2 linked regions of the Homo sapiens genome follow. The protein of the gene in region 1 purifies or fractionates together with the protein of each later gene. This does not show direct contact. Each region holds a gene or a part of one and is shown in the gene's direction. Other genes may lie near its edges.

Evidence for each region. The genes of interacting proteins can lie anywhere in the genome.
Region 2: the proteins of CSTF3 (region 1) and SYMPK purify together in Homo sapiens (affinity purification with mass spectrometry; 2 studies listed by BioGRID and IntAct, with this or other methods). This does not show direct contact.

The regions. Positions count from the first base shown.
Region 1 is NC_000011.10:33,084,852-33,088,599, reverse strand, and holds part of CSTF3 (cleavage stimulation factor subunit 3), read left to right. Parts: intron 1-1,458; coding exon 1,459-1,612; intron 1,613-2,610; coding exon 2,611-2,705; intron 2,706-2,826; coding exon 2,827-2,887; intron 2,888-3,310; coding exon 3,311-3,513; 3' UTR 3,514-3,748. UniProt on the Homo sapiens protein: One of the multiple factors required for polyadenylation and 3'-end cleavage of mammalian pre-mRNAs.
Region 2 is NC_000019.10:45,856,496-45,860,243, reverse strand, and holds part of SYMPK (symplekin), read left to right. Parts: intron 1-3,748. UniProt on the Homo sapiens protein: Scaffold protein that functions as a component of a multimolecular complex involved in histone mRNA 3'-end processing. Specific component of the tight junction (TJ) plaque, but might not be an exclusively junctional component. May have a house-keeping rule.

The DNA.
Region 1 (3,748 bases):
GAAAAGAAAGATCTTATAGTGGCCAGGTGTGGTGGCTCACACCTGTAATCCCAGCACTTTGGGAGGCCAAGGTGGGTGGATCACCTGAGGTCAGGAGTTTGAGACCAGCCTGGCCAACATGGTGAAACCCCGTCTCTACTAAAATACAAAAATTGGCCGGGCTTGGTGGCGGGCATCTGTAATCCCAGCTACTCAGGAGGCTGAGGCAGGAGAATTGCTTGAACCCAGGAGGTTGTAGTGAGCCAAGATAGCACCACTGTACTCCAGCCTGGGTGACAGAGTGAGACTCTGTCTCAAAAAAAAAAAAAAAGAGAGTAAGTATTCAGGAGTAGAACTACTTCCTGAATATGATGTTTTCCATCTTGTATTTCTATTTCTACTCTTTTGTTTTTTGGGGAAGGATTAATGTGCTTCTGTGTTTAACGGTGGGTGGTATGGTATGTATGTATCTGTGAGAAAGATTTTTAAAAAGCGATACCCAATGTGTCTACCATTTAGATTTGCTTATATAATTAATACCAGATGTCACCAACTCCATTTCAACAAATTTTGAGAAAGTGGAATGCTTTTATATCCCTTGATGGCGGCAAAAAGGGGTTCTTTTGTTTCTAGACAGACAGAGTAACACTGGGTTGTCTGGAGCAGAGGAGCTCCTCTGAGATAGGGCCTCTGTTCATAGGTGACTGTATTGCTTCCTTTGGCATATCTTGTCTCAGCCCTGGCAGGGCAATGCTAGTGTACTGAAAAGAAGACTGTGGATGGATTTGAGGTCAGAGAGGCCTGCCCTCCCAATCCTCCTCTCTCTACTTCTTATTAGCTGTGTGACCTGGGAAATATCAAAACCTTTGTGAGCTTCAGTCCCTTCTATATAATGGAGATGTTACTATTTCCCTCATTAAAAACAGAATGGCTAAAATTGCCTGATGAATAGTGTCTGCTCAGTAAATATTCCTTGTCCCCTGTAATAAATAGTACATTGGAAATAATTTTTCATTGCATTAGCAAAATCTTAACCGGTGTGATGCCTTCACAAAACAGGAAGTCACTTAATCCAGCTTCTTCATTTAATGAAACTGGTGTTCAATTCTAATGGAAGGGAGGTGTCAGAAGATCTAAAATCTTGAATTTTCCTCCAAATTATCCTGGCCTCTACTTGGTTCCCAGTCTGACTACCCAAAAAAGCTTGTATCTGTCCTACAAATGTCCTGCCTGGCAACACTAAGTTTAATGACTTGTAACTTGTGTGGGGTAAAGTTATGATACACTGAGTCTTAGAACCAAATAGCTTTCCTTGTTGAGTAACAATCTTTACCATCATTAGAGTCCTTGCTTATCCGTCTCCATTTTCTTTCTGTGGTTTTGACCCAGATATTCACACTGTATCCTCAAGGTTATTGCATGATTATTCTCTAGTAGTCCCTTTTTCAGGTTTAGGATTCTTCTGTTCTGCATTTTCAGGATGTCTCCCGTGCTAAGCTAGCAGCTATAATTCCGGACCCAGTTGTAGCTCCTTCTATAGTGCCTGTTCTGAAAGATGAAGTGGATAGAAAACCAGAATACCCTAAACCAGACACTCAGCAGATGATTCCATTTCAGCCACGACATTTAGCACGTAAGCCATGACTTTAGATCCAGTACTGAGACGTTGGTTTGTTTGTTGATTTAAATCCAAAGCGTGGGGGTAAAGTGACATGGCCTCTCAATTGTGGGTTAATTATTAGACTTAGGATCACTATGACAAGTGATTTAGCTTTAATCTTTGAACTAGATTAACTAAGAATGTCCTAAAAACAAAACTTCAATGATCCAGATTCCAGGAACCCATTTTGGCAGTAATACTTGGTTTTCAGAAATGCTGCTATGGCCAGGTGCAGTGGTTTACACTTATAATCCTGGCACTTTGGGAGGCCAAGGCAGGTGGATCACCTGAGGTCAGGAGTTTGAGACCAGCCTGACTAACATGGTGAAACTTTGTCTTTATTAAAAATACAAAAATTTTCTGGGCCTGGTGGCATATACATGTAATCCCAGCTACTTGGGAGGCTGAGGCAGGAGAATCACTTGAACCCGGGAGGCGGAGGTTGCAGTGAGCCAAGATGGTGCCATTGCACTCCAGCCTGGGCAACAAGAGCGACACTCTGTATCAAAAAAAAAAAAGGAATGCTGCTATGTGCAGATTACCTGAACAGCTGGTGGAAACTTTCTTCACTGATAGATTTGGTTTCTTTACTTAGGAATGGGTTAGTAGCCTCTCTAGATTCTTTTTGAACAAGGCCCTTCTGATTAAATACACTGTTGAATAATTGACTTGAAACAGGATTGCTAAACAAATGACTTGTGTAACTCAGAAACACTCTTTGACAAAAACTGACTTTAGTTCAGTCCCTGGTTGTCTTACACAAAGTCACTTGTCTACTTCTCTGCCTCCCAGTGGCCACGGCATTGAGACTGCTGTCTCACCCACTTTGGTTTGGTAAAGCCCTAGAAGTATTTTCAGTGTCCAGAACAAAGCAGCAGACATGGAAGATCTTTATGTGCAAGTCACTTGATTTTAGCTCTGTGTAGAAATTCTTCCATTCCACTTGATTCATACTTTTCTTTTTCTCACAGCTCCAGGTTTACACCCTGTACCTGGTGGAGTGTTCCCAGTCCCTCCTGCAGCTGTTGTTTTAATGAAACTTCTCCCTCCTCCTATCTGTTTCCAGGTTTGTTCACTTATTTTCATGGTAGATACTGGCTCTGTGGGTCATAGTAATTGTGTATAAAGTTACTACTACTTTAACTTGTCAGATTACTGGGATTAAAATTTATTCATGTCAAAAATAGGGTCCTTTTGTACAAGTGGATGAACTGATGGAAATTTTCCGAAGATGCAAGATACCAAATAGTAAGTAACAGAAGCTCCATTTCAGAGTGTCATTCCACGTTGTTGTCTCATAGGCAGTAGAGATTATTATTCTCTGCCACTGAAGTTTTCGAAACCAGCCAGCCAATTTGAAGTGCAGTGAAACCCAGGAGTTACCCAAACCCTCTTTGGCAGAGAAAGGCTTATTCACATTGAATTCCACTAAGTAAAATGTCATAAAACTTTATCTTTTCTATTCATGTGAACATGCACTATCAGGCTTGGCTTATGAAAATTATTAGTTTTAACAGCAGCTTTTGTCTTTTTCTTTAATTATTTAGTATCAGTAGTACTATCCCATGTTTTGCTAAAATAGTAGGCTATGAAATAAAGTATCCACAGTTGAACATACATACCCTTTCATAGTGGAATATGTTTTTACGTTTTGTTGTTTTGTTTTAATAGCTGTTGAGGAAGCTGTGAGGATCATTACTGGTGGGGCCCCAGAGCTAGCTGTAGAAGGCAACGGCCCCGTGGAAAGTAATGCAGTACTCACCAAGGCCGTCAAAAGGCCCAACGAGGATTCAGATGAAGATGAAGAAAAGGGAGCCGTTGTCCCCCCTGTTCATGACATTTACAGAGCACGGCAGCAGAAGCGGATTCGGTAGGGTTTTAAACGCCTCTGCAGAAAACTCCTGTCCAGGATTCCTTTTGCCTCAAGTGGTATGTTTAAAAGAGACAACGCTTTGTTACAAGGTTCTTGGAAACAAAGTTGTATTGTCATTGGTGCCTCTATCACATGGTTCTTGAGAAAAAACAAACCAACCTGTGTGAATTTTAGAATACGGAACAGACCTATGCTCTAAGCAAAATTAGGTTTTCAAAAATGTGAGAACAGTACAA
Region 2 (3,748 bases), on another chromosome or scaffold:
CCTCGGGTGATCCACCCGCCTTGGCCTCCCAAAGTGCTGGCATTATAGGCTTGAGCCACCGTGCCCGGCCGTGTTCAATATATATTAACTGATTATTTTTTCTTTTTTTTTTTTGGAAACAGGTTCATCAGGTTCATGCTCTGTTGCCCAGGTTGGACTACGGTGGCCCAATCATACTTCACTACAACCAGGCTCAAACAATCCTCCCACCTTAGCCTCCAGAGTAGCTGGGACTAAAGGTTCATGGCACCATGCCTGGCTAATTTTTTTTTTTTTTTTTTTTTTTTTTTAGATGGAGTCTTACCGTGTCTCCCAGGCTGGAGAGCAGTGGCATGATATCGATGCCCAGCTAATTGTGCATATGTCTAGAGATGGTGTGTCGCTGTGTTGCCCAGGCTGGTTTCAAACTCCTGGCCTCAAGTACTCTTCCTGCTTCAGCCTCCCAAAATGTTGGGATTATAGGCATGAACCCCTGCACCTGGCCTTCTTTTTTAGTTTTTAGGCCTAGGCTAGTCCTGAACTCCTGGCCTCAAGCCATCCTCCCACCTAGACCTACCAAAATGCTGGGTTTACAATTGTGAGCCACTATACCCGTCCTATTTTTGTTTTCTTTCCTTTCTTTGTTTTTGTTTTGTTTTATTTTTGAGACAGAGTCTTGCTCTGTCATCCAGGCTGGAGTGCAGTGGCGCAATCTCGGCTCGCTGCAACGTCTGCCTCCCAGGCTCAGGTAATTCTCATGCCTCAGCCTCCCAAGTAGCTGGGATTACAGGCATCCATCTCCATGCCCAAGTAATTTTTTTGTATTTTTAGCAGAGACTGGGTTTTGCCATGTTGGCCAGGCTGGTCTTGAACTCCTGGCCTCAAGTGATCTGTCCACTTTGGCCTCCCAAAGTGCTGGGATTACAGGAGTGAGCCACCACACCATGCCCTTTTTTTTTTTTTTTTTTAAAGACTTGTCAAGTGCAGTAGTGAGAAAGGGGGAAAAAGTAGAACAAGTATAGCTATTAGGATTCAAGAGTGAAAGGGCAGGAATACTGAACCCAGTGATTGGGGAGGCCGTTTGGCAGTAGTGTTCACTCATTCAGCAGATGTTTATTGAGCTCCTGCTAGGTGCCAAGCACTCTTCCGTGCTGGGAATATAAAAAGTGAAGGAACAAAATCCCTGTTCTAGGCCGGGGGCGATGGCTGAGACTTGTGATCCCAAGCACTTTGGGAGGCCAAGGAGGGTGGATTGCTTGAGTGCAGGAGTTCAAGACCAGCCTGGGCAACATGGCGAAACTCTGCTTCTACCAAAAAATGATTTCAAATAAATAAATCACTGTCCTCGTGGAACTTATAAATATGTAGTGTGTGATGATGATAAATGCTATGGAGAAAAAGCAACACAGATGGGGATCGAGAGGAAGTTAAAATTTGAAATATGGTCGTCGGCCGGGCGCGGTGGCTCATGCCTGTAATCCCAGCACTTTGGGAGGCCAAGGCGGGCGAATCACCTGAGGTCGGGAGTTCGAGATCAGCCTGACCAACATGGAGAAACCCCGTCTCTACTAAAAATACAAAATTAGCCAGGCGTGGTGGCACATGCCTGTAATCCCAGCTACTAGGGAGGCTGAGGCAGGAGAATCGCTTGAACTTGGGAGGCAGAGGTTGCTGTGAGCTGAGATCACGCCATTGCACTCCAGCCTGGGCAATAAGAGGGAAACTCCGTCTCAAAAAAAAAAGAAACATAGTCGTCAGGGAAGACCTTACTGCAGAGACATGTGAGTGGAGACCTGAAGGAAATGAAGAGGGAAGGAGTTGTGCTGATATCTAGGAGGAGGAATATTCCAGGCAGACGGAAGAGAGGCACAAAGTCTTTGAGGAAGGGGCATGTTGGGCATGTTCACAGGACAGCGAGGAGGCCAGAGTGGGTGGAGCAAAGAGCCCAGGGGGAGAGGCAGTCAGAGGAAGAACAGGCCAGATGCCATAAAATCTTGTAGGCCTTGATGGGGACATTGGCCCTGACCCTGAGCAAGATAGGGGGTGACAGGCAGCAGGGAAACTAGGGAGGAGGCTGTGGCTCGTCATTCATTGAGGAGACCCCTATCATGTGATACTACTGTGAATAGCTATTGGGTAGTTCCTTTTAAAAAACGTGTCATTTTCGGCTGGGCGCTGTGGCTCACACCTGTAATCCCAGCAATTTGGGAGGCCAAGGTGGGCAGATCACCTGAGGTCAGGAGTTCGAGACCAGCCTGACCAACATGGTAAAACTTCGTCTCTACTAAAAATACAAAAATTAGCTGGATGTGGTGGCACATACCTGTAATCCCAGCTACTTGGGAGATGAGGCAGGAGAATTGCTTGAACCTGGGAGGGTGGAGGTTGCGGTGAGCTGAGATTGTGCCATTACACTCCAGCCTGGGAAACAAGAGTGAAATTCCATCTAAAAAAAAAAAAAAAAAAGTATTTTCGGCTGGTTGCGGTGGCTCACGCCTGTAATCCCAGCACTTTGGGAGGCCAAGGCGGGCGGATCACGAGGTCAGGAGATCGAGACCATCCTGGCTAACATGGTGAAACCCCGTCTCTACTAAAAATACAAAAAATTAGCCGGGCGTGGTGGCAGGCGCCTGTAGTCCCAGCTACTGGGGAGGCTGAGGCAGGAGAATGGTGTGAACCCAGGAGGCGGAGCTTGCAGTGAGCCACGATCACGCCACTGCACTCCAGCCTGGGCGACAGTGCAAGACTCCATCTCAAAAAAAGAAAAAAGTATCATTTTCACCGTCCTCAGATTATTGTTTTTTTGGCATGTTTGTTTGTTTAGTGTGTGTTTTTTTTTTTTTTTTTTTTTTTTTGAGACAGAGTCTCACTCTGTCGCCCAGGCTCGAGTACAGTGTTGTGATCTCAGCTCACTGCAAGTTCCGCTTCCCGGGTTCATGCCATTCTCCTGCCTCAGCCTCCCGAGTAGCTGGGAATACAGGCGCCCGCCACCATGCCCGGCATATTTTTTTGTATTTTTAGAAGAGACGGGGTTTCACCTTGTTAGCCAGGATGGTCTCGATCTCCTGACCTCCGTGATCCGTCCGCCTTGGCCTCCCAAAGTGCTGGGATTACACGTGTGAGCCACCGCACCCAGCCTTGTTTTGTTTTTAAGACAGTCTCATTCTCGTCCAGGCTGGAGTGCAGTGGCGTGATCTCAGCTCACTGCAGCCTCTGCCTCCCAGGTTCAAGTGATTCTCCCACCTCAGCCTCCCAAGTAGGTGGGATTATAGGTATGCGCCACCATGCCTGTCTAATTTGTATGTTTTTAGTAGGGAACAGTGTTTCTCCATGTTGGCCAGTCTGGTCTCGAACTCCTGACCTCAGGTGTTCTGCCTACCTCAGCCTCCCAAGGTGCTGGGATTACAGATGTGAGCCACTGCACCTGGCCTGTTTGTTTCTGAGACAGGGTGTTGCTCTGTCCGCAGGCTGGAATGCAGTGGTAGGGATCACAGCTCACTGCATCCTCCACCTCCTGAGCTCAATTGATCCTCCCACCTTAGCCTCCCAAAATCCTGGGATTACAGGCGTGAGCTGGCCAAATTATTATTAATTATCATAATTGTTGTTAGCAGTTTATGCAGTAGCCTTCAGATCTTTTCCCATGTACATAAAAATAATAGTATACTTAGCCAATGTTTACTGTATATACTAACTCATTTAATCCTCAAAATAGTCTTGGGAGGTAAGCCCTGTTACTATCCCTGTTTCCTAGAAGAGGAAACTGAGA